2 separate regions of the Homo sapiens genome follow, and region 1 is linked to region 2. Evidence: fine-mapped expression QTL. A gene starts in region 2. The other region holds a variant in brackets. All regions are shown on one strand. Distances are between the middles of the regions. Region 1 holds the start of LOC105379048 (a long non-coding RNA gene). Region 2 holds the start of CMYA5 (cardiomyopathy associated 5).

What was found.
Region 1: its variant is fine-mapped to the expression of CMYA5 in thyroid (GTEx, PIP 0.98).

The regions. Positions count from the first base shown.
Region 1 is chr5:79,853,577-79,865,122 of GRCh38, reverse strand. It overlaps LOC105379048 (a long non-coding RNA gene), which reads right to left and starts at 5,262. Exons shown (of 3, transcript XR_948500.3): 1 at 5,183-5,262. The variant T/C (reference allele first, on the strand shown) is at 5,367.
Region 2 is chr5:79,685,378-79,696,923 of GRCh38, reverse strand. CMYA5 (cardiomyopathy associated 5) reads right to left here and starts at 7,088. Exons shown (of 13, transcript NM_153610.5): 1 at 6,868-7,088. The coding sequence starts at 7,016. It overlaps TENT2 (terminal nucleotidyltransferase 2), which reads right to left. Exons shown (of 15, transcript NM_001114394.3): 15 at 8,678-11,546. RefSeq lists an enhancer at 7,077-7,578.

The sequences.
Region 1 (11,546 bases), 170 kb before region 2:
CATGGAAAAAGTTGCTAAGTGACCGAATGTATAGAAACAACTGGAATATTTTACTTGCTGAGGTCCAAGATAGTCTGAAGTTAAGTATTCCTGTCTATGTCAGGAAAGAGCATGTGTCAGAATCACTTAAGGGGCCATCAGGAAATCCTGGTCAATGGCACAGGTTGAACTGATGTGGGAAGTTCCCATTATGCTGCAAACCCATATAAAAGCTGGGTAAACTATAACAACAAAAAAATGTTACTTTTGTCGTTGTTATCGTTGCCATTTCATAGCCAAATTCTAAACTAAGTAAGAAAAACTCCTAGGTCCAAAAAGGAAGTAGAAACGCAAACTCATAAAATTGAGCAGGTGTTAAAAGCAAATGGTCCATAGGGATATCAGAAACCGGTGCTAGCATAGGTTTTAAAACCCACAGGAGCAGAGGATTAGGCCTCAGGCCTGCAGGTGATAAGAAGCTGAACGGACCTCTTTGAATAAAGCTAAAAGCCAGAAAGTAATCTTCCTTCCGGAAATAAGGACTAGAAGAACTCTGCCCACTGGTCTAAGGATGCATCAGGAAGTTGACCATCTGTCCAACATTGTGGGTGGTGAAAGAGTAGACCTCCAAAAATCAAACTTCCAAAATTGCACCCTGTGTGGGTGTTAGTCAGAATTCCTCCAAACCATAACTAAAGGAAGTTACAATTAAAAAGTAAACATAAAAATTATCTAAGAATGAACGCAGCAAAGGCAAATAATGAACCAAATGACACATATGCCTGCACAGTACAGCCTCATGGGACACAGCAGGAAACTATTTCTCCTGAAGATGAGCTCATGGTAAAATATCTCTAATTCCATGAAAAAAGGAATTATCTTAAAATACCGTCAACAGATGAAATAGTTGGGAAAATTTACACCCTATAAATTACAGCAATGGAACAATATGAAAAGGTTTTTAAATGGGTATGTTTAAGATATTCAAAAAGAAAGGAAAAATAAAACATACAAAAGCAATATTAGGACATTATGAAAAAGAATATGCAAATTCAAGAAAGCACCATTTTGGTATATTATATACACCTGAAAAATATAGTAAGCAATGACTGGGAAACAATGATGGAACACATTAAGTGGTTGAGACTAGAGAAATCAATAGTCTTCCTATATAAAAGCAATAACCCCTGAGAACATATAATAACAAGGAGACCTCATTTATAATAGCTGCAACAACAAAAACACAAAATATTTAGTAATAAACAAAGAAATATTTAAGATCTATATGAAGAAAACTTTAAAATGCCACTTAGGGATGCAAAAAACTTGAAAAAATTGTAAAGACTAACCCTGTTTTTGCATATTTAGCTCTGACATAAGAAAAATGCTAATTACCCCTAAGGTAATATATATGTACAATTTTTAAAACATCAACAGAATTTTCATTTAATTACATACCAACTTTAAACTTCATTTGAAAAAATAAACAAGAATAGACTGAAAAGCAGAAGTATTAAGGGAGAACTAACCCTTCCAGATATTGACATATATTAATCTATAATAATAAAAATTAATGCGGTTCTAGAGCATAAATACACAAATAGATTAATGAAACAGAATAAAAAGCAAATTAAACACAAACACCTATGAAAATTTAGTATCTGATAAGAATAAAATTTAAAATCATTAAGGGAAAATGATACTGGGCCAAGGAATGGGTTGTCTGAAATGAAAAATTTGTTGGTTGGCTTAAGGAGGACTAGACATTACAGAAAACAAGAACAGTGAACTTTAGGCATAACAATTGAAACTATCCAGACTAAAGCATAGAGAAAAAAATAAGCCTTAAAAAATAAACACAGCCTCAGTGACTTGTGGGATAATATGTGCAAATGGAGTCTCAGGAAAGGTAAGGGTGGGCTGGGGGAATTAAGAAATAACATTTGAAGAAATAATGACCAAAATTTTTCCAAATTTGATGAAAAGATACACCCACAGTTTCAAGAAGTTCAGCAAAACTGAAGTGAGATAAAGACAAACACACTAAAATGCATTATAATCAAATGGCTGGAAATCAGTAACAAAGATGAAACCTCAAAGGCAGCCAGAAAACACACACATGCACACACTATATATATGAACAAAGCTGAAAATTTGACTAACTTCTCATTAGAAACAATGAAAGCCAAAAGAAAATTAAATGACATCTTTAAAGTGCTGAAAGAAAAAAAACTATTAGTCGAGAATTTGTATCCCAAAAAAATCCCTCAAAAATAAAGACAAAAATTAAAAACATTTTAGGCAAACAAAAGCTGAGTGCATTCATTGCCAGCAGACCTGCACTAAAAGAAATAAAAGAGGATATTTTTCAAGCTGAAAGAAATAATATCAGATAGAAATTTGGATCTGCAAAAGGAATAAGGAAAAACAGAAATGATAAATATGTGATTAAATATAAAATACTTATTTCTAATTTTTAAACTTATTTTAAAAGACATTTAATTGTTAATAACAGTGTATATGGGCCTTACAACATATGCAGAAATAAACTGTATGACGATGATAATACAGAAGACTGGAAGGGAGAAGTAGAAATATGCTGCTGTCAAGTGGTATAATATTATTTGAAAATAAGTTGTGATAAGTTCAAGATTCATATTGTAAACTGTAGAATGACCCTATGAAAATAGTTTTTAAAATGAGCTATGGCCAATAAGCCAACAGCAGATAGAATATTAAAAATACTCAATAAATCCAAAAGAGGGTAGGAAAAGATGAAGGAACAAAGATCAATTGAGACAGATAGAAAACAAATAGCATATTTGAACCCAACTATATTAATAGTTGCATTAAATACAAATGGTCAAACACTCAAATTAAAAGGCAGAGATTGTCAAACTAGATAAAACAGTGAGACCCAACAAGTGTTATCTGCAAAAAAATCTACTTTCCCACTTTAAATACAAAAATTCAGAAAAGTTAAATGCTGGAATAGAAAAAGATATACTAGATAAAAAATAATAGGAAAATGGAAATGGCTATATTTATGTCAAATGAAATGGATTTCAAGACAACGATTATTGTCAAAGATGAAAGAAACATTTCATAGCAATACATAATAATACATCAAGAAGGCATAAGACTACATGAGTGTACATCCAAAAACAGAACTTCAAAAACTTCATGTAAAGCACAAACAAAACTGAAAGAAGAAATATAAAATGTTAATACTTCTGTCTTAGTAATTGATGCAAAAAGAAATCAGTAGCGATATAGAAGATATGAACCACAGTTGGTCTAAATAATATTTGTAGAACATGACACCCCAAACCAGCAGAATAATGCCTTCTTTTCAAATGGACATAAATATTCACAAGGATAGACAATTGCATTGGCCATAAAACAAGTCTGAATACATTTAATAGGATTGAAATTATACTTAATATACTCTGTAACCTAATTAAATTAGAAATTAATAATCCCCATGGGGTCTGTTATCATGGAGGAAAACCAAAGGAATCGATTGCTGGCAGGTATGCCCTAAAAAAAAAAAATGCTAAAGGATGTTCTTCAGGCTGAAGATAGACGATATCAGAGGAAAACCTGGAAATTAGGAAATGAAGAAAAAGCAACAGCAGTATAGTAAATATCTGTGTCAATAAATACTATTTCCCTCCTCTTCAGTTACTTAAATTGTGTATGACTACTGAAAGCAAAAATCATTAAATTATATAGTGGAGATTTCAATGTATGTAAATGTAAAGGAACCAATATGATTGGAAGAGTCTATACTTTAGTTGAAGTGGGAAAATACTACCTGTAAGTAGAATGTGGAACTTTAGGTATGTATACGGTAACCCCTAGAGCACCTATAAAATTTTTAAAAACAAACAAAGATATAGCCAGGAAGCCAGTAGCTAAATTGAGATGGAATGCTAATTATTCAAACAAACATTAAATAATATTAAATGTTCAAATAATCCAAAATAAGGTATGAAATAGAAAACAGAAGAACAAAAATTAGAGGTGAAAACAGGATACAAGATATATCTTTAAATATATTCTGTATTTATTCAGATAGGTTAAAAGTAAAAAGATGGAGAAAAATGTACCATACTGGAGTGGCTATGTTATTATCAAAGCAGATTTCAGAGATAAAGAGGGACATTTCATAATAATAAAGGGTTCAATTTGCCAAGAAGACATAATCTTAAATGCATATTCACCTAACAACAATATTTCAAAATATATGAAGCAAAAACTAGAAGAACTGAAAGGAGAAACAGACAAATCCATAATTATAGTTGGAGATGTTAACACTCTTCCCTTGGTAATCAATAGAAAAAGTAGACATAAAATCAGCAAGGTTATAGAAGACACGAACAACACTATCAACCAACTTTACCCAAGTAATTTTTTTGTTTTTGAGATGGAGTTTCGCTCTTGTTGCCCAAGCTGAAGTGCAGTGGCGTGATCTCAGCTCACTGCAACCTCTGCCTCCCAGGTTCAAGCGATTCTCCTGCCTCAGCCTCCTGAGTAGCTGGGATTACAGGCACCTGCCATCAAGCCTGGCAAATCTTTTGTATTTTTAGTAGAGATGGGGTTTCACCAGGCTGGTCTTGAATCCTGACCTTAGGTGATCCGCCCCCCTCGGCCTCCCAAAGTGCCAGGATTACAGGCATGAGCCACTGCACCTGGCCCCAAATGATTTTTATACAGAACACTTCACCTAACAAATGCACATTCTTTTCAAGTACACAAGATAGACCACATTCTGTGCTGTAAATAAACCTTAGCAAACGTAAAATAATTGAAAGCAAAGAAAGTATATTCTGTAAACATAACTGAATTAATTTAGAAATCAACATAAAGATATTAGGAAAATGCTAACACTTTAAATTTATTGTGTATTTTAAACATTGCACAATAAAAATATAAAATAAAACTTGAAATGTTTAAACTAGCCCAGAATGAAAGCTTGGTGAGAATAAAAGTAACGATAGTCCCTCATTACTAGACTGTTATCAGAGACTCTGATAAGACTAAAAGTGGTGAGGGGGCGTATGGGAGGGAAATGAAGTCCCCTCACAAGTTTCCAGAAGGAAAAATCCACAACGACAAAGAACATGATAGGATCGTCCAAGGTAAATGAAATCTGCAATGTAAATCATTAAATTGTGAAATGTAAGTCATGGTTCTATACCTTCTGTGACATTTGATCAAGGTAGAAGAAAAATTCTGAGAACCTTGCTGTTTCTCCAGCAGCCTGCAGTTGTCACTCCTCCCTTCTCTCTCAACTTTTTCCAACTTTAGAATTTCTGGCAGAGACTGGACCAAAAGTCACAAGGTTTAATGAGCAGTGTCGTTTCAGGCCACGAATTTGTGAG[T/C]GCCTGTTTCTGCTCACAGCTCTGCCCACTTCTCTCTCTCTACCATAAAGCTTTTTGGTCAAACTCCACTTAAGCTTAGCAGCTGCCACTATTTCCAGGATCTGGCAACGAGAATAAACTGGTTGAATCCCAGCTGTAGGAATTTGGGCAACCACCCGACGGCTTAGCCTCATTTTCCTTAGCTGTGAAATAAAGGCAATTAACCCACCTCACAGGAGTTGTGAGGATGAAATGGAATAATTAAATTATTAAATAGGATAATTTAAATGTAAAGGTGTAAAAGTGCTTTGTCAAGAGGAAAGGCACCTTCCAAGGATTTATTGCTAAAGGAACCCAGTCTCAGGACCTCGCTGTGGTGTTCACCTGGGGTAGTGGCCAAAGGTGTGGCTTAAATCAGTGAACCATCCATCATATTTACTAGAGAGAGGGCAGAGGTGGCCCTTGACCACCAAAATCCCTGCCTCCCCTTTCATGATGTGGCACTGGTGCTGGAAAGAGGCTGACCAGCCAGAGACAGCATTTCCCAGCCTCCTTTGCATCTACGTGTGGCCAGAAGAATAGTTCTTTCCATTGGCCTGTGAGCCACAGCTGTTTTTTAAGAAGCAGGAGTGCCTTCTCCTTGCTCTTTTCTCTTCTTCTGGGTGGCTAGATGTGTATGAAAATAACCAGACCCAGATCATGGTGGAGGAGCCACAAGCCTGAAGGAATCTGAGTCCCGGAATTGCAGCACCTGGAGGAGGAGAGGCACCCAGTCACAAGAAACACCTACTTGGGACCATTATAGAAGCACAAAATAAAACATCTATGATGTTAGAGCAATTACGTATTTTGGTGTCTATGTAATAAAGCAGTTGGTATGACCTTAACAAGGAGGCTGTATAGTAAGTTCTGGGTGTAATCTCTTTCTCTGCCAAGATTTTGTGGCCTTGGACTCTTTTATACCTGTTACCTCATCTATAAGTACAGATGATAATTGTTCTTGTCTTATTGGGTTGTTAGGAAAGTTAGTTGATGTAATGCACAGAAGATGCCAATAACCATATATGTTCAGTAAATGTTGGCCATGATTATTAACAGCATAGAATTATCAGACTTTTAAAAAATTCATTCATTGACTCCAGGAAAGATTTCTACCTCTGCAACTTGTCTCCAGGTGACTGTATCCATTACATGCACACCCAAATATTTTACAAAGAAATTATTCAGGGACTTCGTGTTTTTCCTAGGCAGTTGCGTCTTTATTTGAATATAGTTAACTGGAAACCTCCAAGCCTAAAGTTTCAGGCTCAGTTTGTACCTGAAGAGTCACACATGTGGACTTAATGATAGTGTGTGACTTGACCTACAATGACTCGGAAGCCCAACTAACCTGTCCTCTTTACCGTAAAATCCAGAAGTCAGATGCTGTTGCCTTACAGCTGCAGGTCTGATTCTGACCAGCAGAGGGCAGTGCTGCACACAAACTCGTGCAACTTTTGAAGGTACCCAGTGCCTTTTCATTGTCAAGTTTCCGTGTGTGTGGGGGTGGGTTTTCTCCCCAGTTTTATTCCTTGCCTTCAGAAGAATGGCCATGATATTTCAGAAAATCATGATTATCCTCAGCTCAGCTTTGATAGTTCTTAGTCTGTTGTGTGCTCACTGGCAAATCACATTTTGTGACCCTGCATGTTGATGCTGGTGGCCCACAGGCTAAAGTGAACATCAAGGGAAATACTGAAGGGGAAATAAAGTTATAAAAAGGGCAGCCTGGGAAGGGTGGGGATTGGCCTAGTGATGCTTGGGAGAGGCGTATCTGCTGAATGTGAGAATAGGAGCCCCCGCTCCTTCCCGTATCTGCTGGCACAGCCACCTCCTCCTTGTCCTCCTTTCCTGAGTCACTTACACCCACCTAGCTTCTGCAAATGATTCCACCCCGTCTTCTCCCACAACATGGCAAATTCCGGGACTCAGTCCTATGAACCTTAGTAATTCTAAGTTGTGTGATACATTTCAGAATCTCTCCTATATGAGATTTTCTGGAAACACACATGCCCATGGCTCACTCTAGACCTCCTGAATCAGATGCTAGGGTGGGTGAGAGTTTTAAGGAGCTCCCAGGATGATCAAGGTTGGTTCAAGCACCCCACACCCACCCTGAGAACCACTGGTATAGTTAATGAAGACCTGGGAGAGGCAAATGGCAGAAGAATGGAGAGGAGGGGACAGCTGGGGTGGAGTTGATGTGATTCAGTGATCCATTGCTTCTGTTACTATCCCCATTTTCCCCAAAGGGAAATTTGCAGCCCACATATAGTGACAGGTGATCTCACTGCTTTCTTTTTCTTTTTTCTTTTCTTTTTTTTTTTTTTTTTTTTTTTGAGACGGAGTCTCACTCTTCACCCAGGCTGGAGAGCAGTGGCACAATCTTGGCTCACTGCGGCCTCCGTCTCCTGGGTTCAAGCGATTCTCCTGCCTCAGCCTCTTAAGTAGTAGGGATTACAGGCCCCTGCCACCACGCCCAACTACATTTTGTATTTTTAGTAGAGACGGGGGTTTCACCAAGTTGGCCAGGCTGGTCTTGAACCTCTGACCTCAGGTGATCCGCCCACCTCGGCCTCCCAAAGTGCTGGGATTACAGGGATGAGCCACCATGCCTGGCCCTCACTGCTTTCTTCATGGAGAGAAGGAAAGCTCTTCAACTGTTCTCCTGCCTCTCTCACTCTTGCCCTGGGTTCTTATCCATATTCTCCATCTTTCCTCCTCTCTGACTGCTTGGCCTCTCTCCGCCTCCACCCATGCCTGAGCCCACCTTCTCTGCCTCCTCCCATTACCCGTTTCCCACCTGCACCTCTGGCGTCACCCTCTCCAGGGATGCATTTCCTCCTGCCCTCAGCCCCATCACCTGTCTTCAAAGCTTGCCTCCCTCTCACTGTCTTACGGGCTCTCCCCTCTCCTGGTGCTCCTCTCACTCTTTCCCCTCTTCCCTGTCCCCGCCTTCTTTGTGCTGGACTTGGTCACTCCTTTACATGACTATCAACACATCCTCTGAACTGGCCCCTCGGTCTCCCCCAGGCTTCCCTCCAGACTGAGTCCAGAGAGGTTCTTCTAGCACGCTAATCTGACATTGCCTTGCACTGACCTAAAAACCCTTCACTGCCCCTGCCCCACACCCCTCAGCATATCACACAGGCCTCCCTGCCTACTCTTCCCATCCTCTGGAGTTTTCCCTGTAGCAGTACGCGTCTGTGAACCTCTTAAGGAATGTTTGCTTTTGCCTGGCACTGCTTTCCCCATCTTGCTTCCTAAAATGAGCTCCCATTCATTCTACAAAACCCAGCTCAGGTACCACCTCCCCTGAAAAGCCTTTCCTTGTACACTCAGACTGATTTCATCATTCTGTCTTCTGTGATAGCTCTGGCTTAATATCAGCTTCTCATTGTTGTAACTTCCCGCTCTGAAACCTTGGAATCATGACGTATTCCTTCTCCCCATAATTTATTCATTTACAATTATCTCTTCCTTTCCAAGCGTTGAGCTTCTTGAGAATGTAGACTGGGAATTATTAATCTTGGGGCTCCAATTCCTAGCACGGCGTCTCGCTCAGTAATTGTGGGACAGAATTGGGGGAAAGCTAGTCTGTCTGCTTCCTTTCACGGATGGACTTCTTTGAAATAGCAGATGCCTGCCTGCCTTTGTAGTGTTTCTACTCCCACCCATCCCTTCACCCACTAAAATCTGTTTTCCTCACATATTTACAATCTTTGAAAGAAACAAATGACTCAGCCACCATGTCTGAAGTCTGTGCCCATTCACTTCTCTTCGTCATCCTCTCCGCATCATTTGTCACTGTTGACTACAACCCTCCCTGAAGTTCTTCCCTTGGTTTCTGTAGTGGATAGTCACTGTCTTGGTTGTGTCAATTCTACCTTCTTCTGGGAGCAGCACCCCAGTGTTCCTCTAGGGAACCAACCCTCTCCCACCCTCAGCATCCCATTTTCAGTGTCCAGGTTGAGGTGCTGCTCTCTCCAAGACCAGCAAGTCAGAGCTGAGTGTGGCTTCACATCCGAGCATAGCCACCTCTTGGCCCCAGAGATTGGCTCAGAGGTGAGCATGTAATGGCAACCATTGGAACTGTTTGTTCCTCCTGCGGCAGAAGATAGAATGGAGTTCCTGACTGCTATTTTGTCACCATAAAGAGAAGAGTCCTGAGCCAACAGAGGAAAGTAGAATACAGCGTAGGAGTAAAAATAAGTCTCAATGTCTTTGAGCCACTGAATGCGTCTGAATGTGGACTACCCTGGACTTACCAGTTATATGAGGCAATATATCTCTTTTTTTATTAAACCAATTTGAATTGTTTCTTATCACTTGCAAAAAAAAGTCTTGACAAATTATGGTTATGATGATCTGCAGTATCTCAGATTTCCACCTACATTCTCTTTCTCCTTCATTGGTTTTTTATTCTCCTCCTATCTCATGCATGGGATCCTGATGCTAATGATAGAAATTTCCATTGCAGAATACTTTATCACTCGCAACTTACCTGTCCACAGCCCTCACCAGCATTCACATTCTTCCATATTGAACACACCAATTCTGAAGCTTCAATTCTTATTTCTATATAACAAACCAAATTGTCACCTCCAATTCCAACTTCTCCACAAATGCCTGCCCTCATTTTTCTAACCACCTGCCACTCATCATCAGAATCCCACCAATACTACCGACTTACCTAAAGTCTAATTCTTCCTTCACAATTTCTCTTTTTCCAAATCCATTGCTCTTTCTGATTATTCTAATTTTGATCCAGGTATTAACACTTTCCAGTTTCCTCTGGTTTAAAACCCTAGGGTTATCTTTAATCACTCTTTCTCTATACCTCCCAGTTCAGCCCCAAAACACACACAGTTGCGAAGTCCTTTTGAGTTGATTTCTGGAATGCCTTTTCTCTGTTCCCCCACCCTATCCTCACCACCATTATGTCCTGATTAGGGACTTTAACTTCCTTTATGTAGATTCTAGTCTGCTACTGTGGCCTCACTCCTCCCTGCCCAGCAGCCCGGGGTATTCCTATAGGGCAGTTCCGAGTCCATCAGGCCTCTGCTCCAAACGTCTTGAATGGCGGGCTCCTCACTGACACGCAGGCCCTCAGGGTTCTCGCCGTCTGCTTATTCCCTACCTGTTCCCTCTCTTCAGGGGCTTCTCTCTCAAGGGTGGCTGCCTTTCCCTCTCTCATGTTTTATATGTGGAGCTCTGACACCTAGAAATCGCCCCCAGTCCCACTCCCCATCTCTATTGAAATTCCAGCCACTTTCACCCCAGGCTAAAGGTCATCTCCTTTCCTCTAGTGACCAGATAGGGAAGTACAGCATAGATGGCAGCACAGTTTGCGAGCATCAGAGCTGGTCATCCACAGATGCTCACACTGGTGCCAACCCAAGGTGAACACTCTAAGTGTGTGCTGAACAAGGTGAGCACTCTACGTGTGTGCTGTAGCCTTGGCTCGGTCCTGTCACCCTCCCACCTATGACTCACACCTGGGTCAACGTGCTTCTGACTCCCATTGAGTCAGAGAGCTGACACATGCGTGGCAGTAGGGGGCTCTACACCATCTCTCGGGCTGGAACTAAAGCAAACCAAAATGGAACAACCAGAAAGCTTAGTCAACATGCATGTGATATCCTGCAATATCCTGCATTGAGGTTCAAATTGTGAATTCAGTGGTGTGGAATGGGGGAGGCTAGGTGTTCTGGGGAGGACTTAGGCTTTTGGGAGTTTGGGTGGACTCTGGGCTCTGCATGAACCAGCAGAGGGCCAGAGCTGCCAAGAGAGTGAATGTCATCAGAGGCTTTGTGAACAAAAGGTGGTATGCGGAGCAAGGGAAATGGCAGCCCCCTTTTGCCCATCCACACTATCAAGGATTGAGGTCTGATCCAGGCAGCTCATGTCAAGAAGGAATGGACCAACTGCAGCCAGCCTCAGGCAGGATCACGGCCATGACCCAGTGGGTCAGGAAACCAGAACAACTGAGGCACAGGTAGAATACTGGGCTGAAAGGAAGACTTGGCAGGGACATGAGAGCTGTCTTCAAACATTTGGAGGGTGTCTTCTGCTTTCTAAAAGGAGTTAACCTTTGCTATGTAGCTAAGGAAGGTGGAGTTAGGGTCATTGGATAAGAACTGTAGAGGGGCATTTTAGCTT
Region 2 (11,546 bases):
GTGCTTCTCCTGCCTCAGCCTCCCAAGTAGCTGGGATTACAGGCACCTGCCACCATGCCCGGCTAATTTTTGTATTTTTAGTAGAGACGGGGGTTTCGCCATGTTGGCCAGGCTGGTCTCGAACTCCTGACCTCAGGTGACCTGCCCGTCTCGGCCTCCCTAAGTGCTGGGATTATAGGCATGAGCCACCACGTCCAGCCAATAAAAACATTTCTTTAAATGGAAGAAATTAATTTTATTTATAAACCAACAATTTAAGTGCCCTAGTGAAATCAGCCATTAGGAGGAAATTTGCAGTGAATGTAAATTTCTTTAAAAGTTTTTTAAAATCAAAATTGTATATATTTATGGTATATAACAGTGAATGTAAATTTCTATTTAGCAAGTGAATTTTTCTTAAAAGGAGGCATACTTACAGGAAGAAAACACATTAACAGCTCCCTGAGAGGGCTCTGAGTATTTAGTTTGGTGGACTGAACAGTAGCATCAATTAATCTTCCCACATATCTTGGACTTTATCAGATTAGGATGAAGAATTTTGGAACTGAATCCACTTTGGTTGTCTTAATAGAAAAATTTTCTGAGCAAAAAGCAAAGCCTATTCTTATTTTTCCGTCTATGATCTGGCTGAAGGGTCAGTCTAGGGATGGCTTTCTGACAAGTCACAGAAGGCGGCACTGATGACTGCAGACACCTTAACTGAACAATCCTTCAGTACTTATCACTGTTCCCTCCAAGCTACTGTCTTTCCAGATTCACTGGGCATTGTCAATCCCTGGTAAATGAACTGTCAACAACCAACAAAAATCTTACCTGATCTAACAAGTTCAATATTCCAACTAAACTTGCTTCTTGTAGAAGTCTGGAAGGCTTGCCCTTTACTCAGGCACTCATTTATTCATTTATTTATTCGCACCATTCACTTATCCGATCAACAAATATTCTCAACCTTAAAAAATCCTGAGATGATTCTGGATAATAACAAGAAAGTTTAGACAAAGCAGCAATCAGCAGCACAAGAGCTGGAACCAGGAACTAAAGGAATACCTAACCACATATTGTGCCTGGAATATCTTTCTGCCCAACTGCAGTGTCACTCTACAGGAATCTTTCTAAATCTCATTTTAGGAAGAATGTCTTTGGATATTCCTCTATTAATATCCTTAGTGTAATGCTTATGATATTACATTGAAATTAACCGCTTCCACTCACCAGACTGAGCTCCTTGAGGGAAAACAACTGTGTCATCCAATCCTCTTTGTGTCCCTGGTATCCAGCACAGGGCCTGGCATATAGAATTTATTACCAATGCAGCAGTTCTCTAGATTCCAATGAAGCTAACAGATTTCTAGGTATTATCAGACCTGCATTGTTCAGTATGATAGCCACTAGCTACATGTGGCTATGAAGCACTCGAAATGTGGTTAGGCAGGATGAATTGAGGTGTGCTGTAAGTATTTAAAAAACATCAGAGACTTAGTACAAAATAATGTAAGATATCTCTAATAAGTTTTACACTGATTACATGTTGAAATGGTAATACTTTGGATATTGGGTTAAGTGATTACTAAAATTCATGTCACTTGTTTCTTTCTGCTTTTTAAAATGTGGCTATTAGAAAATTTAAAATTAAATATGTGGCTCACCTTATATTTCTATAGGATAATGCTGGGCTAAATCAAAGGTTATTTTCATGTACAGCCACAACTGGTCTCTTGTACTTGATTCTCTTAAGTCATGTTGGTAGGAAGGGGAATTTGGTTTAATGACTAAAAAAAATTAGGTTTTCATTAAGCCTGTTTTCAGAATATCCAGGGACTATGGACTTTTTTGTGTGTAAAATTTTATCAGTATGTCCTACACTTTTTAGTAAGTTTGCCTTTCTAAAGAAAAAATAGTAATAATTCCAACTCTTGCTGAGTTTAACTCTTCGTTGAGTCAAAGTCTTACCAAGGACATAAAATATCCATGCAGCCAACACTTAAATAGCTCTTCAGTTTCTGGCTACAAGTGACTCTGTTATCTTCTATCCTCCCTCAGCCTCTGGCATCCTGAGCAGTCAACCCCTCCCATTCTGAGCTCTTTCCACTGACCTCAGAAGAAGGCTGGCTCAAATAACACACTTGTCAAAACACCTAGGTAAGCACATCTGTGGGAGACACCATATAAATAGATATATGGAAACAGAGTGCTCTGTACTGATAATGAAAACCATTTACAAATTCCTTGCACCTTCCAAAAGGTTTATTCCTGCAAGGACTAGTTAAATGTGAATGTCACTAATAATTTTAATTCTGTCAGCTTAGACAGACCTGTTTTATAGAAGCACTGGCAAAGCTGCAATTGAAGGTGATTTTTAAGTTTTGGGTACTGCTGTGGCAAAAATCCTCTGTGCTTAAATAGAGAAATGAAAATTGACCAACAGAGAATGACCGAAAATAAAAATGCTGAAAAGTTTCTAAGTGATCTGTGGGAAAGGCTGAAAGAGTTGGCTTTCACTGGTCTACAGCAAGAGAAATACAAAAGTAACAGTCCTATTTACTTCTGTCTCCTCTCCATACAGGAAACCATGAGTTTGGCACATGGTAAGTGTTAAATAAATATTAGTCAAATGAAAATACAAATGTATAGGTGCTTATTATTTAAAGGAATATTGCAATCACTGTGCTTTCCTTGTTTTTTGTTTGTTTGTTTTTATCCTGACTGGTATAGTAGACACAACATAGCTTCCAATTTTACTCAGAATAAAATTCATAGTCCTTACCATGGGCTACAAAGCCCTACATGATCTGCAACCCAACTATCTCTTAGCTTTGACTCTGACCACTCGCCCCATTACCTTACTCTGTTCCAGCATCCTGACCAACTTGCGTTCCTCAAATAAGACACATATCCCTCCCTCAGTGCCCTTGCAGCTGGTCATCCCTTTGCCTAGAAACTCATTCCTTCAGTATCTGCTCAAATGTCACCTCATCAGAGAGGCTTTCTTCACTACCTCATCCAAATATACCCCACCCATTTATCCTGCTATATTTGTCTTCATAATTTCTTACCACTTGACATACTATATGTTTTATTTGTCTCCCCAAACTGGAGTGAGTTTTAGCAGGGCAGAGACCTTATTCATTTTGTTCACAGCTGTATTCCTTGTGCCTAGGAAGTCTCTGGCACATTGTAGGAGTTCAATAAATATCTGCCAAATGAATACATTAATGAACATTAAATTGGAGTCCAGACACCTGGGGTCTACTCCTAATTCTGTTCCAAAAAATTCTGTGGCTGACCGGGCACGGTGGCTCATGCCTATAATCCCAGGATTTTGGGAGGCTGGAGGCAGATGGATTGCTTGGGCCAAGGAGTTCAAGACCAGCCTGGGCAACACGGCAAAACCCTGTCTCTTATAAAAATACAAAAAAGTAGCCAGGCCTGGTGATGCACACCTGTAGTCCCAGCTACTCAGGAGGCTGAGATGGGAGGATCACCTGAGCCTGGTTAGTCAAGGCTGCAGTGAGCCGTGATCACGCCACTGCAATCCAGCCTGGGCAATCAGAGTGAGATCCTACCTCAAGAAAAAAAAAAAAAAAAAATTGTGTGACTTTGAACAAACGACTCCTGACAGTTTCTGAATCTAAAATCAGATCGGTTGAGAACAGATACTTCCAAAGCCTCTGCTAGCTCTAAAATCCTGTGAGTTTTATAATCTGCCTTTCACAAAAGTTCTCCCATGAAGTTTTAGAAACATAAAAATCTTTTTTGATATCCACAAACTACAAGCACTATGAGGCATTTTATTATGATTCAAAACACTGCTCCAATGATGAAGGCTTCTCCAACCCTTCCAGGTAGCATGTATCCCAAGACTTTGAGGTGCTTCATACACACCTTTTCTTCCTTAAATCTCTTCTAACAGCTAATGACATAATTACGTTTTTCTGTTTCTCCAACTAGAAGGTGAATATGAGGACAGTAATGGATTCTTATTTTTGTATCCCCAGCACCTCGCATTGTCTATGGCAAATATTAATAGTAGGCACTCCATGAATGTTTAGTGAATGAATGAATACAAAGTGAAATAGGATCATTATTTATACTGAAAGCTGAGACCATCTCTCCCTTCATGGATGAATGGTGGGCAGAAGGTAGAGCCTTCCTGCTAATAATGACTCATCTGATGGAATAAAAGAAACTAAAGCTTAATGGGAACCTACTAAGAACCAAGCACTCCTACACACATTCACATAATTTATGCAATCCTTATGACAACCTTATGAATTAGGAATTCTTATTATTTTACAGATGAGAAAATTGGGCTCAAAGAGGACAGGATTTTCCCATTATGGAACAACTAATAGGATTCACAGGCCTCTTGATGTTACATGTCACATTCATATCACTGGATGATATATCAGAAGGATAGTTCTCTGATCCAATATCCATGTTGGTGTATGTAAATGATGAGCTTTCCTGCACTACAAAAGCATTTTATAATTAAAGAGAATTTTTCCTCAATTCAGAAAGGTAACTATAGATAATTATATATATCATACCTGAAAGGGTAAAGGAACGTTTACAGATTACTTTGTGTCTTTTGAATTTTTAAAAATGAAGGTTTGCAAACCAAAAATAAAATTCTAAGCCCCCGACCATCTGAGTGGACCCCTCCTTTCAGCAAGGGCATTCCAAAGCTAACCTGAAAAACTCACTCAGGCCGTGATGGTGGAGGTGGGGAGATGGAACATGCCTCACTACACTACACCCCCCTCCCTTTTGGAATTACTGATAGAACAACTCTTTCAGTCTAATAAGAAACACTTACAATCTATTCTCTCTCCAGCTGGCTACCTGGAGGCTTCATCTGCATGATAAAACTTTGGTCTCAACATCCCCTTATCATAATGCAGACATTCCTTTCCACTGATTCCAAGTCTTAAGAGAATAACTTAACTCTTTCAACCAATTGCCAATCAGAAAAAACTTAAACCTACCTATAACCTAGAAGCCCCCATGCCCTTCAGTTTTCCCACCTTTCTGGACCAAACCAATGTGCATCTTACATGTATTTGATTGAGGTCTCATGTCTCCCTAAAATGTGTAAAATTAAGCTGTCCCCCAACCACCTTGGCCACATGTTCTCAGGATCTCCTGCAGGCCGTGTCACAGGCCATTGGTCACTCATATTTGGCTCAGAACCAATCTCTTCAGATATTTTACAGAGTTTGATGCTTTTTCGTCGATACGTGTTTTTCCTAAATCCAGAAGTTTTGCTGACTTCCTGTTACCCTTGTCATCCAATAAAAAATAAATTGGATGCTTTTTCCAGGCCTCCATTTTCCATATTCCCTCATGTGTCCCTCCACTCTATTTATTCTGACCTCTTTCCCTGGTGTCCACCTTACTGTCTGTAGTCAGAACAGGCTGAAGTTTACTGCAGACAAATCACATCCTTTTCTGAAGGCCTTGACCTTTGTCAAATGGCAATGCAACCCCAGAGTGAATGGTCAGCTGCTCACATTTTAGTGTAAATGAGTTTTCAGATTCTCTTGGTTGTAAATTGTGGTTGGGCAAGGATATGAGGATCCCAGACAACAGTAAGGGAAAGGTTATAAAAGCTGAGTTGACAGACTTCCCCTTCTCAACACTGCCAAGGGATCACAGGTCCCCTACTCCCTGATCCACTTCCTACAGGTGCCTTCTCCTCTGCTCTTCCTGTTTGTAGTCCCTGCCCACTACTTCAAGGCAGCTCCAGCCCAACACTCCCTCTTCTGCCCTTGCACAGTACCCATAGTCCTCCCTTCCACCTCTATATAGTCTCACACTCCCCATGTTAGGGAAACGTTTCCCCATAGGGGAAAAAGTTAGGGAAACTTTTTCCACAAGGTCCTTGAGGCCAGGGACTGTGCTTGCTTCCCACTTGGCAGCTGTTTGATAAACAGGTGACATACATTCAGGACTTCTTGTCTGACCATCCATCCTCCTCAATGCCCCTCTATGGGCTACTTCTTCAACATCGGCTCTGCTGGCTTTGATTAGGTAAGCTGGGCGTTCTGAGATGGTACACACCCACCTGCCACCTTCAAAGCCTTTCTACTGTTATGAACAGACTGAGGAAGAGACATCACTGACTGACACACAGTCAGGAAAAAACCCAAAACTCATACTCAAGGAAAACAAGTGAAGGTAGAAGCTAATCCAAATAGACATTAGATGATTTCTATTATTCTCATTTTAGGGCCTTCTTAAAGGGACGGAGGGTGGGAGATCGAAGGGTGGGAGGTGCATCTTTTGTACATAGTATTACTTCATCGCATTCACGGAAACTGATATTTGGGATTTGGGACCAGGACTTGAAGAACAGGGATTACTGAAACTCATGCTTCTTTTCCCCCAAAGAATTTATGGGCCTTTGTATCAAAATAAGGTCACCTTATTGCAGCCTAGCCTACTGCTAGGCCCCCGGGGAGACCGCCATTCATCGGAAGGTACCAGTGCGCCTTCACCGCCTCCACCCCACCCCCTTCTCCTCTAGCGCAGGATTTCGCGATTGTTCCTGTGCCTCGGGCCAGATGTACGTGTTCCAGCACATTTCGGCAGTTATGCAGGACCTAAGTAAATCCTCAGGAATAAACAAGAGCAGCGAGTCACAAGGAGCTGGGGGCGGGGGTAATGAACTCTGCTGCAGGCGGGCCTGTCACTCCAGCTGACAGCGAGCACCTTCACCTTCAAGTTCTTTTAAACGACAGTGCACCCAGAGAGAAAGTGCCTAGCTCGAGGCAAACGAACCCCAGAGCTTAAAAACTTAAAGCAAACAAGCAAGGGTGCTGCTAGCTGCCCTGCAGGCCCTGGGCCGAGGAGAGAGGCTCGCGCTACCTGGAGTCCGGCTCCTCCTCCGACTCCGCCGCCGTCTCGTCCTCCTCGCCCTCCGACTCCTCCTCGGTCTCCAGCTCCCGGGTCGCCTCCTCGTCCCCGTCGGAGCCGAGAAAGCTCTCGCCAGCGTGGTTGCTATCGCGGCTCGCCATCGCCTCTCCCGGGCCTGGGCCGGGGCCGGAGCCGGAGCCGCCCGCGCCGCGCCTGGTGTTCTCCCTCCGACTGCTCTGGCCCCTGCCCTCCCCAGCCCTGCCCCTGCGGGGGCGGCTCGGGTTCCCGGCGCCGGGGGCGGGCGAGCCCCGCGACTTTAAATAGAAGGCGTCAAAGTTTCGCCACCGAGCTTCTGGGGCCCGGGCTCAGCTTCTCCTCTTCCCTGAGCCCTCCCCCGCCCCCGTTTCGCCAGATCCCTGGCGGGCCTTTCGGACAACTGGAGATCACTTTAAGGGGCGCGGGCTCCGGCTGCACCAGGGGGTTCAAAGGAGGAAAGGCAACCTAGCCCCGTCTCTTATTTCCTCCAGAGTGAGTCTTTTCGGTTTTGAGCTGAGCTACTTTCTGGACCCTTTATCCCAAACAATACCCTGAGCTGGGCACTTAACTACCAGGCACTCTGCTAAGGGTCTCGCTTTCATTACCTCGATTCTGTGGTGGTACCTGTAGAAGGTTTTACTGTAGTGCTGGTTTCCCAGATGAGGAAACTGAGACTCCGAAGAGCTCCAGCAGCTCAGGCTGTCATTGCTAGTAAAATGACCCAATGAGAAACAAAGCTAGGCGTGCCCTGCTCAAAAGCCCAGTTTTGAACCAGTGTTCCGTCCCGGCTCTCTTTATATCGCAAGTCAATATACTGTGTATTTTCTTGCTCAGTGGTCCCTGTTATTGAGCCAGGAAACTTTATCTCCACTCATCTTAAACCTTGAGGAGGAGCAATTTCCCCCACGTTAGCAAAAAGCTAAGTTTTGTCTGAAACTGGCCCAAATGCCCCAAACCTTTCCCCGGATCAAGTTGTGGTTAAAACCCCTCAATGGCTTCCCACTGCTCAAAGACTGAACCCCAACACCCTCACAAAGGTAACGGTTGCCTAACAGGCCATGTTTTACCTGTCTACTCTTTTTTTTTTTTTGAGATGGAGTCTTGCTCTTGTCGCCCAGACTGGAGTGCAATGGCGCGATCTCGGTCCAGTGCAACTTCCACCTCCTGGGTTCACGCGATTCTCCTGCCTCAGCCTCCCGAGTAGCTGGGACTACAGGCGCGCACCACCATGCCCAGCTAATTTTTGTATTTTTAGTAGAGACGGGGTTTCACCATATTGGCTAGCCTAGTCTCGAACTCCTGACCTCAGGTGATCTGCCCACCTCAGCCTCCCAAAGTTCTGGAATTACAGGTGTGAGCCCCCACGCCCAGCTGGTCAGGTGTCTTTAGAAGTCAGGAGTTCCCAACATTGTCAAGTCACTCCACTGTGTCTTTATTAACACAATTCCTTCTGCCTCAAAGGTTGGTCCCATTTTTACCAGGATACCCATCATTCAAGATCACCACCTTTCACTGAAATCCCAAAGTTAAACTCAGTACCTCTCTTCCAGGTTCCCACATAATCCTATATTCAAATTATGTTTGTATCTCCTTCCCCAGCAGACTTCGTAAGTTTACTACTCTTCTTTGTCCCATCATCCCCATCTCTTACAAGCCTACACACTAGCAAAGTAGCTAGCACATAGCAGGTACATATAATGGATGCTCCCTGAAGAGAACAGAACCAGAACTGCTATGTACAAATGGAGGTAACTTTACAATAAAGATATTCATTTCATGAGAATGATTTGATGGCTAGAAGAGTTAACATTTATTTTTAATTATAGCAAGTCACAGAGTTGTTAAATATGACTGTAAGCTGGGGATTATTCACCAGTTACACGAGCTGGTATGCATGCATTATGTCTGGAGGTAATGAACTGTAAATCATTGAATTACAGTACAGATACATCAGCTAGTGGGGCATAAGGAGGGAAAACAGCAGAGTCAAGGCTTCCACAGCTCACTAAACCAGGTTTAGCATCAGCAATATTTATTCTCTTAACACCAGCTAGACTTCACCATCAGTAATCCCAAATGACCATGCTCATCCAGTACAAAAGGAATTCAATCACAGCTGTGGCAATCTGTTAAACACTAATCAAAATCACAGGTAGCCATTCTATGTTCCTTCCATCATTTAATTAAAAATTTCTTACAAACATTAATGTCTATGAGATTTATTTGCAAAGATCCTAGTTCAAATCAATCCAAAATTTAGAATTGTAGTACAGATTGCACATTTTAAACACCACTTTAACAACATATGCAAATACAGTCAACCCTCCGTAACCATGTAGGATTTGTGAATTCAACCAGGATGAAAAATATTTGGGAGGGGGTAGGGAGGAGGCAGAATGGTTGCATCTGTACCGAACAGGTATAGACTTTTTGTCTTGTCATTATTATTCCCTAAACAATACAGTATAACAACTATTTACATAGCATTTACATTGTATTACGTATCAGGTAATTTAGAGATGATTTAAAGTATCAAGAGAATGTGTGTAGGATATATGCAAACACTACACCATTTTATATAAGGGACTTGAGTATCTGTGGATTTTGGTATCTGAAGAGGACGGGGTTGACCTGGAATCAATCCCTCAATATACTGAGGGACAACTATATACAGAAATGGACAGATCAACACAAACAGAAAATAATTTAGTACTCACCACACAAATAATTGAGATTAATAACTTAAAAGTCCAGAAAATTCTCTCATATATTAACAGTTCACTTATCTGATATTTGGCCAGTTATGTGTGCATAATTTCAGGCCTCAGTCTACTGATATAGAATTGGGTCTAAGTTTAGTGACTTCTTGATCTGTTTTTCGTGGTAAAACAAAGAAAAGCAGTAGTAAGTGTGGGGCCACTGAAAACTGAGAAAACAGTGACAGTGAAGGAACCCACACCATGGTAAATTCTGGGGTTTTATTAGGAAATGTCATAATACTGTAGAGGCAGAGGGTACATACTTACCCATCCCTGAAAGTTGCACAGTATTACTGAATAGTACTATGACTAATGCTTATAATGATTACCCAGTCATCACTAGAATATTAACTCTACTCAGTACATTCTGATTAAGAGATGCACAGTGTAAATTTTAGGAAAAATTCCCCCCCAAAATATGAAAAGCTCAAATGCATAAAAAGTGTTACACATCAGGAATCTAAAAAATTCACTATGTGTAAACTTTCATTCCTCATAATGCCAGAGACATAAGATATTGATGTCGTTAGCTGGCTAATAAGTAGATTTAGTTCAGTTCTAGATGATAACTACAGCCTCGGTCTCATCTCAAAGCAAAGATTTTCACAGAAAAAAAAGGCACCTCAACAATGTCCATATATAAATTTTATTGCATTTGACATCATACAAAAATTTGAACTTAAGGAAGAAAATGAAAATGTGCACCTTTTACAAGTCAAAGAAAAGCAAAAGTTTTAGCATTTGGTCTGCAAAAAAAAAATACGTTAGAGGTACAAAACTGTACTACAGCAGGTCTAAAAAATGTTGGACATAGTTCTTTTGAAAAAGTTAAAACTGTTTTCAAGGTTACTTTTTATATTTAAATTTACAGGCACTGACCAATTTACAAATATTTACATAAATCAAAAAGACCCTTAATAAACACTGTAGCTTTTTTTTTAGCAGCCACCACTTCTTTCATGTGAAAAAAGAAATACTAAAAAAGAGATTTTTTACAAACATTAAGCTTTTATTTATAATAATTTTATTGTGTCTTATCTAAAACATTTTGTGGTGACTTACTGCCTAAAAATTCCAGTTTAGATTACAATCCTATAATTGTACACAGAAAAATATCTGATACTACAAACAGGATATAATCTTAACTTTGATCTCAGTTTCTGTTGCTTCATGTCACAGAGAAAACAGAGCAGGAAAATGGCAAGTAAAACAGAAGTGCACATTGCACTAAGCTATCGTAAAGCACAGGAAACAATCTTTTCAAAATGTCTACACTGAACTGATTCTTTAAAACGATTCACTAACTGTTGTAAGAGTTAGTGCTCCCATTACTACAGTGCAAAATGTATTGTTGTTTCAATACAAAATTTAAAGCAATCTCAAGAGTACATCAAAAGCATGTGAAGTACTAATGAAATGCTAATACAGACACACCCAAAGCCTCAGTCTATCCCAGTGAGTCAAGCAAAGACTTAAGGCAATTGTTCAGTATTTCATGACTGCAGTGATTTGACTGAAATGAAAGATTTCGTTTTGCTTCAAGTAACTGAACAACTGACTTGAATCTTCACTTTACTAGAACAGACTTTGACAACAAACTATCTAACGTAGGTTATACTTTAAGCATGTATGAATTAGACCCTTTCCAAAATTCTACACATCTCTTCAGGATTAGCATGTGGTACAATTAATTGAAGTTATATCAAAAACTTTTTATTTGTTCAGTTAATTTCCCAAAATATATTTTATCTGATCACCTGAAAACACATGCAATATTACTCATCATCAATGTAAACATTTTTAAAAATACATTTTTAAATCAAAGGGGTTTATTAGGAAATGTCATAATAAAATATGCAATCTTTATATGTCTTTTTAAAAATAAAACATGAAAAC